Regions from separate parts of the Homo sapiens genome. Here region 1 is linked to region 2. Evidence: fine-mapped expression QTL. A gene starts in region 2. The other region holds a variant in brackets. All regions are shown on one strand. Distances are from middle to middle.

What was found. PIP is the estimated chance that this variant, and not a neighbour inherited with it, causes the effect. A credible set is the group of variants that fine-mapping cannot tell apart.
Region 1: its variant is the best candidate, but not a certain one, in a credible set for the expression of XRCC1 in whole blood (TOPMed, PIP 0.76).

Annotation. Positions count from the first base shown.
Region 1 is chr19:43,628,095-43,633,094 of GRCh38, forward strand. The region is part of intron 1 of CADM4 (cell adhesion molecule 4); the gene reads right to left. It overlaps LOC105372411 (a long non-coding RNA gene), which reads left to right. Exons shown (of 4, transcript XR_001753942.2): 2 at 690-893; 3 at 3,414-4,330. Among named protein-coding and RNA genes, the nearest start is that of CADM4, 9.3 kb to the right of the region's middle. The variant C/A (reference allele first, on the strand shown) is at 2,342.
Region 2 is chr19:43,573,409-43,578,924 of GRCh38, forward strand. XRCC1 (X-ray repair cross complementing 1) reads right to left here and starts at 2,119. Exons shown (of 17, transcript NM_006297.3): 1 at 2,000-2,119; 2 at 1,502-1,594. The coding sequence starts at 2,050. PINLYP (phospholipase A2 inhibitor and LY6/PLAUR domain containing) reads left to right here and starts at 2,393. Exons shown (of 6, transcript NM_001193621.3): 1 at 2,393-3,511; 2 at 3,707-3,853; 3 at 5,182-5,298. The coding sequence starts at 3,784. RefSeq lists a silencer at 2,073-2,232 and enhancers at 2,333-2,492, 2,493-3,019, 3,020-3,545.

The DNA.
Region 1 (5,000 bases), 54 kb after region 2:
GCTCTGCAAGAAAGCTCCATTGGATCTGGATCTTAAAGAGTAAGCAGGAGGCTGAGCGCGGTGGCTCATGCCTGTAATCCCAGCACTTTGAGAGGCCGAGGTGGGCGGATCGCAAGGTCAAGAGATAGAGACCATCCTGGCCAACATGGTGAAACCCTGTCACTACTAAAAATACAAAAAAAAAAAAAAAATTAGCTGGGTGTGGTGGTGCGCACCTGTAGTCCCAGCTACTCGGGAGGCTGAGGCAGGGGAATCGCTTGAACCCGGGAGTTGGAAGTTGCAGTGAGCCGAGATGGAGCCACTGCACTCCAGGCTGGGCGACAGAGCGAGACTCTGTCTCAAAAAAAAAAAGAAAGAAAAAAAAGAGTAAGCAGGAGTTCACAAGGTGTGGGAGACTGCTGTGTGTTCACCAAGCCTCATCTTTCACACCTGGGCACATGTTGTAGCCCGTTTGCAAAGATAGCCGTAATATTCTCCTGTCCCTGGACATGCCCTTTGCAAGTTGATTTTGCCATTCCTCCCATTGAGAAGGCACTTTGTCCCCTACTAGTCTGGGTAAGCCTTGAGAGTTGCTTTGACCAATAGAATTTGCTAGAAGTGATATTGAGCCTAGGCCTGAAGAGGCCTTGTAGCTTCCACTCCTGCCCTAAGACTGTTGCATGAAGATACCCAGACTAGTGTCTTTGCAGATGAACAATCATGGTGAAAGAGAAGCCCAGCCGGCAGCCAGCACCAATCGCCAGCTGTGTGAGTGTGGCCATCCTGGATCATCCAGCCCCAGCTGCCCCACCAGCTGACAGCAGCCACACAAGTGACCCCAGTTGAGACCAATAAAAGATCTGCCCATCTGATACAGCCCAAACTGCTGAACCCCAGAATCATGAACAAATAAGGTGGTGGTTGTTTTAAGCTCCTAAGTTGTGGGTGATCTGTTCTACTGCTAAAGTTAACTGATACAATACATAATTAGGCTATACTTCCCAGCATCCTTTATAGTTAGGTGGGGCCATGTGACCAATTCTGGCCAATGGGATGTAGGTGGAAGAGAAACACCTCTTGCAGCCTGACCCATCTCCCTCATAATCCTTCACACTGGCTGAACAGAGAGGACTCCAAGGAGCCTAGAGGAGGGCAGAATCACAAGCCAGAAGGAACCTGGGTCTCTAACTGACTGTCCCCCATGACCCGCCTGTATAGGACTGTGATATGAGCAAGAAATATACCTTTTTGTTAAGCCATTGAGATTTCAGGGGTGTCTGTTACAGCCTTTAACCTACCCTGATTAATCCATCAGAAAAACAAGGTGGGGAATCTAGAACCATCAGAGAAAAGCATTTAGGAAAGCTGAAAGCCAAGACTAATCATCAGCATTAATATCATCATCTGTTGTCTTCAAAATAACAATAACCCCCATAGCTACCAATTATTAGGTACTTGCAGTGTTAGTCCCTGTGCTAAGGGCATTACCCATATAACTTACCTTTAATCCTCACAATCCCTGTGTAAGGTAGACATGATTATTATCATTATTATTATTATTTTGGGACAGAGTATTGCTCTGTTGCCCAGGCTGGAGTGCAGTGGTGTGATCTCAGCTCATTGAAACCTCCACCTCCCAAGTTCAAGCGATTCTTCAGCCTCAGCCTCCCAAGTAGCTGGAATTACAGGCATGCACCACCATGCCGGGCTAATTTTTATTTTTAGTAGAGACAGAGTTTAGCCATATTGGCCTGGCTGGTCTCGAACTCCTGGCCTCAAGTGATCCGCCTGCCTCAGCCTCCCAAAGTCCAGGGATTACAGGTGCGACCCACCGCGCCTGGCCAATTATTATTATTATTTTTAATTTGAGACAAGGTCAGGCTGGAGTGCAGTGGCACGATCTCAGCTCACTGCAATGTCTGCCTCCCAGGCTCGAGTGATCCCACCTCAGCCTCCCCAGTAGCTGGAACTACAGGTGCACAACATCACACCTGGCTAACTTTTGTATTTTTTTAGAGACGGAGTTTCACCGTGTTGCCCAGGCTGGTCTTGAACTTGCGAGCTCAAGTGAACTGCCTGCTTCGGCCTCCCAAAGTGCTGGGATTACAGGCATGAGCCACTGTGCCCGGCCTGCGCTATTATTATCCCCATTTTGCCCGGCCTGCGCTACTATTATCCCCATTTTCCCCCATTTCCATTTTTCTTTTCTTTTTTTTTTTTTTTTTTTTTTGAGACATTGTCTTGCTCTGTCGCCCAGGCTAGAGTGCAGTGGTACGATCTCGGCTCACTGCAACCTCCACTTCCCGGGTTCAAGCAATTCTCCTGCCTCAGCCTCCCAAGTAGCTGGGATTATAGGCACCTG[C/A]CACTGCACTTGGCTAATCTTTGTGTTTTTAGTAAAGACGGGGTCTCACCATCTTGGCCAGGCTGGTCTGGAACTCCTGACCTCGTGATCCACCCGCCTCGGCCTCCCAAAGTGCTGGGATTACAGGCTTGAGCTATCGTGTCCTGCTCCCATTCCCATTTTATAGGTGAGAAAATTGGCCCACAGAGATGAAATGACTTGCCCAAGTTCACAGCCAAGAGTGGCAGTGCCAAAATCTTCGTCCAAATCTCTGATTCTGTATCCTGAATCTGTATATCCACTCCTGGCTGTCTGGATTAAGTGTCCATCATTGGCAGGGGGTTGTGAGAGCCGCTTGTGATGGGCCTCGAATGCCAACCTAGGAGATTTGCTTTCATCCTAAGGGCCAGTGAAGGTTTTGAAGCAGGAATATGCCATGATTAGATCTGGCTATTTGTCTTTAAGTGCTGGATAACTATCCATGTCTTTTACATTCAGGTGCTGGGTTGCATTCATTCAGGAGTATTTCCTGAGCATCACGTAGGTTTTCAGGGGCTGAGTAGTCAGAGATGAGTTAGATGAGGTCCCTGCCCTTTAAGATTTATGGGAAGGTAGGAACCAATCACGGTAATCAAAAGTGTTATGTGGCTGGGCACGGTGGCTCACACCTGTAATCCCAGCACTTTGGGAGGCCGAGGTGGGCGGATCACAAGGTCAGGAGTTCGAGACCAGCCTGACCAACATGGTGAAACCCCGTCTGTACTAAAAATACAAAAATTAGCCAGGTGTGGTGGTGGGTGCTTGTAATTCCAGCTACTCAGGAGGCTGAGGCATAAGAATCGCTTGAACCTGGGAGGCAGAGGTTGCAGTGAGCCAAGATCGCGCCACTGCAGTCCAGCCTGGGTGACAGAGCAAGACTCCGTTTCAAAAAAGAAAAAAAAAAAAGAAATAAATAAAAGAAAGTGTTATGTTTTCTGTAAGAGGGTAGGTAACCTAATTTGGAAGTTGAGGGGTAGAAAAGATTATTTCTGGGGGATGGAGACAGAGACTTCTGGCTTCCTATTCTGACATCCATTTTTCCCTTTCTCCTCAGTAAAAGAAAAGAACACTGGTTGTATTTTATGGTTGCACTATGTCCAGCAGAAAAAGGCATTCCTCAGTCTCCTTGCAGCAAGGTAAAGCCATCTGATAAAATTTTGTCCAGTTGGATATAAGCCAAAATGTTGCGTGACAATTTTGGGAGGACTTCCTGAAACAGGTGGACAAACCCTTTTTCTACTGAGTCACCTTTGTGCCACCTGGAACTAACAGTGTGACGCGTGGAATTTAGGCAGCCATATTGAACCATGAGGACAAGAGCAGTGGGGATGGCGGAACCAAGAGCTGGAAGGTGCCTGAGTCTCTGGTGAAGATGTGGAGCTGCTGTAACAGCCCTCAACTCCTAGTTCTGGACTTCTTTTATGTTTTAGTGTAACGCTTTGGGTATTTTTATTTTTTTAATTTATTTTAGAGATGAGGTCTCACTATGTTGCCTAGGCTGGACTCAAACTCTTATGCTCAAGCAGTCCTCCTGCCTCAGCTTCATGAGTAGCTGAAACTATAGCACTTTGGGTATTTCAGCCACTGTTTGAGGTTTTTCTAGCACCTCCTGGAATATCAAGCTTAACATGTCCAATCCTTGCCCCAGATATTTTCCTCCCCAAATTTTCTCAATCTCAATAAATGTCACCACCATCCACCTGGTTGCTCAGGTCAAAAACCTAGAAATCATTCAAGTTCTCTCCCTTTCCCTCATCCCCAATATCCATTCCATCAGCAACATCTGTCCATTCTACCTCCAAGACATATCCCAGATCTCATCACCTTTGTCTGCCTCTCCTACCCTCACTCTCATCCAGCATCATCCCTCACCTGGACTCTGCAAAAGCCTACTCGTGGGTCTGTCTGCATCCCTGTCTGCCTCCTCCAGGGCCATTCTCCACCCAGTGGCCGGATCGATTTTTCAAAGAGGTAAATCAGATCAATTCACCTTTCTGCTTAAAACCCTCCGAGGGCTGCCCGTAACATGTAGAATAAAATAGAGACCCCTTCCCGGGGACTTCAAGGTGCTATATGGCCTGGCCCCTTGCTGACCTTACTTCACTCTGGGCTCGCTAGCCTTGCTGTCCCTCAAACATGCTGAGCTCGCTCCCACCACAGGGCCTTTTCCCTTTTCTTCCTTCTGCCTGGAATGTTCTTCTCCCCACCTCCCAAGCCCCATCTTCCCAGGGCTGACTCCTGTTCCCATTTGGGTCTCAAATCATATCAGTACCTTCTCAGAGAGGCCTTCCCTCACTGCTCATCCCTTCACCTTTAGAACACTTTCTTTTCTTTTAAGAGACAAAGTCAGCCCAGTGCGGTGGCTCACGCCTGTAATACCAGCACTTTTGAGAGGCCAAGGCGGGCAGATCACCTCAGGTCAGGAGTTCAAGACCAGCCTGGCCAACGTGGCGAAACCCCGTCTCTACTAAAAAAATACAAAAATTAGCTAGGCAGTGGTAGCCCGGGCTACTCAGGAGGCTGAGGCAGAATTGCTTGAACCCAGGAGGCAGAGGTTGCAGTGAGCCGAGATTGAGCCACTGCACCCCAACCTGGGTGACAGAGAGAGACTCTGTCTCAAAAAAAAAAAAAAAAAAAAGAG
Region 2 (5,516 bases):
CCATTAAGTAAATCATATGGTCAAACTCATCAATGGAGCAGGGAAATATACTCCCCCTCCAGTGGGAGGGAGAGGAGTGGATATTTGCTGAATGACTGCCCATTCACAAAAGGTTAATTTTTCCGTCACCCTAGCACTATCCACAGAGTGTTCTGCTCCTTATAGTCATAAAGCAGCCCCCAGGCCAGGAACAATGGTTCATGCCTGTCATCCGAGCACTTTGGGAGGCTGAAGCAGGAGGAACGCTTGAGCCCAGGAGTTTGAGACCAGCCTGGCAACATGGTGGAAACCCCATCTCTAAAAAAATACAAAAAAAACTAGCCAGGCATGGTGGTGCACACCTGCAGTCCCAGCTACTCAGGAGGCTGAGGTGGGAGGATCGCTTGAGCCCAGGAGGTAGAGGCTGCAGTGAGCCAAGCCAAGATCATGCCACTGCACTACAGCCTGGGAACAGAGTGAGACTCTGTCTCAACAGATAAATAAAAGATTGACTGTCAGGCAAATTGTATAACTTCTTTGGGCCTCAGTTTCCTCATCTGTAAAAGTGGGGATAACAGAGCCTGCCTCTTGGGGTTTTTTATGAGGACTCAATGAGCTAATCCATGTGAGTGAGGTGTGTAGAGCAGCGACTGACAGGTAACGTTGAATAATGCCAGCTCTCATTATTATTATTTTATTTTTTATATTTTGGGGGTCTCACTCTGGTGCCCAGGCTGGAGTGCAGTGGCACAATCTCAGCTCACTGCAGCCTCCATCTCCTGGGCTCAAGCAATTCTCTCACCTCAGACTCGCCAGTAGCTGGGATTGCAGGTGCACACCACCATACTCAGCTAATCTATAAAATTTTGGTAGAGATGACATCTTACTGTATTGCCCAGGCTGGTCTCAAACTCCTGGGCTCATGCAATACTCCAGCTTCGGCCTCCCAAAGTGATGGGATTACAGGTGTGAACCACCATACCTGGCTATTATTCTTTAAAAAAAATTATTTATTTTAATAAAAATAGAGACAGGGTCTTGATATGTTGCCCAGGCTGGTCTGGAACTCCTGAGCTCAAGCAATCCTCCCATCTCAGGCTCTGAAAGTGCTGGGTTTACAGGCATGAGCCACGGCATCCGGCCAGTTTCCCCTTCTTTAAAGTGGAGTTGATTGGCTTAGACGACCTTCCTGGACACCTTCCAGCCCTGAGCCCACTGGCTGCAGGAGGCAGAGTACGTGGCAATGATTCATTTTGTTCCAGCTGAGGAAACTGGAACCCAGAAAGTAGATGCCACCTGCCCAGGACCACACACTGATTCCTGTGGTCATCCTGGACTTAATCCTTGGGTCTCCTTTCCTCTCTGCTGAGGGGCACAGGGATTATGCTGCCCATTTTCCGAGTAAGGAAGCTGAGGCCCAGCAAAGAAAGTGACTAAACCCACTGCCAGTTGGCTCAGGAGCAGAATCTGGAACCCCGGACTCCAGACTCCTAGTGAGGAGGAGGTGGGGTGGCAGGATCACCTGTAGGACCACAGAGATGGTCTTCTCGCCTGCCTTGGCTGCCCGCCATTTTCGGTAAGTGTCTGCCTTGAGAAGATTTTCTGCACAGTGAGTCTGGAAACAACAGTGGGAGAGGAGAATTAGGGCACAGAGATGACAGCTAGGCCTCCAGCTCTCAGATGATTCCTTTGAGTCCTCCCAAGGCCTCTACGACCCCCAGATTTAAGCTCTCCCGTTAATCCCCCGACACTCTGCCTGGAGTTTCCCCTACAACACTTTCCCGTGGAAGTTCACCTATGGGCTCTCCAAGAAAGCTTCCCTATTCCTCCTTTTCTCTCCGGAAGTTCCCTAGACGCCGGAACGTCCCTAATTCAACATCTCTCCACAATTCACTTTTAGCCTCCTGGAAATCCCCCCATGACTCTCCTTAGACTTCCAAGAGAACCCCAAAAGCTCTTTTAAGAGCTATCCTCATTAATTCCCTCACGTCTTCCAACCTCCCCCATGCAGGTCCCTCACCGAGTCCTGGCTGCTGCAGGACACGACATGGCGGAGGCGGATCTCCGGCATGTCAACGTCGTGGGCTTCGCCTGGCCAGAAGGATGAGGTAGAGTATGGGGTCCGAGGGGCAGGGAGAGTGGGAGGGGGCGGGGTGCGCCCTGCGCTGGCTAAAGTGCGCAAGCGCGCGAGGCTCGGGCCTTTCAAACCCCGGCGCGCCGGCGCCGGCGTCGACACTGCGCAAGCCCAGTCGCGCCTCTCCAGAGCGGGAAGAGCGCTGCGTTCCTTAGCAACGAGCGTTTCCTCCAGCCCCGCCTCCCTCCGCCACACACAACCCCGCTCTAGCCTCGCCTCCCAATGACGTCCGAACCCTGCTTTCTGGGAGCCTAGCAACAGAAGCGACCTCCGGGATTGGTGTCTGGAAGAAATTCGCCTTTCTCATTGCACGATGGAGTTACCGCCCACACTGAAGCCGAGAAAGCAAATCTTTTTGCTGTATTATTATTTATTTTATTTTTTAAAAATTTTTTGTTGAGACAGGGTCTTGCTCTCTCACCCAGGATGGAGTGCAGTGGCACGATCTCGGCTTTCTGCAACCCCTGTCTCCTGGGGCCAAGGGATCCTCCCACTTCAGCCTCCTAAGTAGCTGGGATTACACGCACGCGCCACCACATTCGGCTAATTTTTGTATTTTTTGTGGAGACATGGGGTGAGAGGGCGGCGGGTCTTGCCATGTTGCCCAGACTGGTCTCGAACTCCTCAGCTCAAGCGATCCACCTGCCTCGGCCTCTCAAAGTGCTGGAACTACAGGCGTGAGCGACTGCGCTGGGCTAGGACAGCAAATCTGAGTGAATTTTCGTAGTTTCGTAGGGAACCTGGATTCTACGCAACAGGATCTCTTCAAATGGCTCAGGCGGCTGCACTCTTCTCTCTGTCCCCTTGCCACACACACACACACGCACATATACATACATACGCGCGCGCGCACGCGCGAAAAAAATTAGCAGATCTCTTTCAGCCTTATGCCTGAGGCCAAAAGAGAAGGGTTCTGCGTCCTAAATATAACACAAAGCATGTGCCCAACCCCCACCACACACACACACACACACCCCTATCCTGGAGTTCTTCCACAAAAGCCTCAGTTTCCCAATATGTGGACTGTGGGCATCTGTCTTTTACTACGCCCGCCTATGACTGCCGACAGACATCCCTCTGTTCATTCGGTGCCTTGGAGACCCAAGGGTGCAGCCCTGGGTGGGGTCGCAGCTGGAGACAGCCCAAACACACAAGGAGTGTGAGCCGAGCACATGAAGAGAGGGGAAGGGAGACAAGGCACCCCGCACCCGCAGGACCAGCCTGGACATGCTGGGTGCTCCAAGGTGGGGCCCTACCCACACTGGGTGCTTCCTTGGGAGGAGAGGGGAAGAGAGAGAAGGAGAGGGAATCCCAGTTCTTGCAGCCACTGGGAATCAAGAGGCCCAACTCCGTCTTGGTCTTCAAGCAAACAAACAAACAACAATGGGCCGTGGGAAGGTGAGAAAACAGGGTGGTGACTTTCTGGGTTCTAATAGAAGAGGGGGATGGAAGCCCAGACTCCTGGGGTCTCCATGGAGGTGGGGGGCTGGGCACAAGATGCCCAGGTCACTTTTGGATTCTGGTTCTGCCTTCCCAACCCGGAGGCCACAGAGGACTGCCCTGGGTTCTGACCTCAGCTATTTCTCCCCGTAGGGTGAATGTGGGTCCAGACCCACCCCTCCTCAGCTTCCTATAAAAGCTGGGGACCAGGTACTGCTGATACACACACCATGAGGCTCTCCAGGAGACCAGAGACCTTTCTGCTGGCCTTTGTGTTGCTCTGCACCCTCCTGGGTCTTGGTAAGTGACAAGGGACCTGAACTGTCTCTGGGACCTCAGGAAGAGAGAGGTCCCAGATTGAGAGAGAGAGAGATATAGAGAGAGAAAGAGCCTTCAGCAAGTCCTCAAGGTGAACGGGGAGGCATTCTGGAAATTCAGATTCATGGAAGAGGCCAAGGGTAAAGGAAGAGAAAGCCTGGGGGTCCCAGAGAAGAAAAGCTCCTGTGATTGGATCCCTGAGAGAGGGGCTTGGTGGGCTCTGAATCCTCCATCCTCCAGGAAGGATCCCAAACACATCTCAATTCTAGGAAATCAGATGAGAGCATGGCTGGAAAGGGAAATCTTTAAAAATATAATTAAAAAAAAAAAAAGAGGGAGAAGGCCAGGTGCGGTGGCTCATGCCTGTAACCCCAGCACTTTAAGAGGCCGAGGCAGGTGGATCACTTGAGGTCAGGAGTTCAAGACCAGCCTGGCCAACATGGTGAAACCCCGTCTTTACTAAAAATACAAAAAAAGTTAGCTGAGCTTGGTGGTGGGCGCCTGTAATCCTAGCTACTTGGGAGGCTGAGGTGAGAGGATTGCTTGAAACTGGGAGGCAAAGGTTGCAGTGAGCCAAGATCGTGCCACTGCACTCCCCAGCCTGGGTGACAGAGCAAAACTCCATCTCAAAAAAAATACATTAATATCATATGATATATTTTTTTAAAAGAGGTAGAGAGATTTCCTTTCTCCTTAGACTAAGAAGTTCAGGCCCCAGCCCCCTCCTCCCCTGCACACAGGAGTCCAAGTAAGCCTCACTTTCCCCAGGACCCAGGTTTCTGGGCCCCTAGCTGTCCCCTCTCTCAGAACCAAGAAGTTCAAGTCCTCTGCCCTCCTGGTCCTCACTCTCCCTCCTTGACCTGGGATGCAGACCCTAGCCTCAGGGCCCCCTGCCTGAGCTCCTGCTGTCTACAAGACCTACATGGCACCTTCAAGGAGGAGAATCCCACATTCAAGAACCAGCTGGACCTGAAGTTTCACAAAAGTCCATGGAAACCTCCATCACGACCCCTCCCTGCCCCTGAGCTTTCTCAGCGGACCCTGGCATCCAAAATCCCCAGCCATGTAATTAGGCAAACAGGCTTCATGGTGGAGTCGCTTCCCGCCCCTGGAAGCAGCTTTGCTGGCATCACCACTGCTTCTTCGTCCAACTCTGGACAGTTCCTTGGGCAGTGGTCAACATCCCGCCCATGAAAAACCAGGGAGCTGCTGGTCCCTCCTCTCTCAGGACACAAAAGTCCTAAGTCAAAGTCGTGGTCCGAAGACCACACCACCCATGACTACAGCCTCGCCCTCTGTCTACACTGCAGGGTGCCCACTACACTGCGAAATATGTACGGCGGCGGGGAGCAGGTGCCATGGCCAAATGAAGACCTGCAGCAGTGACAAGGACACATGTGTGCTCCTGGTCGGGAAGGCTACTTCAAGTAAGAGGATGTGGCCTGGGACCTGGTGGGGAGGTGGGGTGTACCTTCAGGGTGGAAGAGACTACCATGCTGAGGGGGGATCATCATGGTTCTCAAGACGGGAGCGTGGGAAGAAATCAGTGGAGAGCAGGAAAGAGGGAAAGACCATCATGAGATGGAGGGAACAGAAATAAGTGGTGTGATAGAAATCATTATTGTCACAGAATTCTGAAAATGAC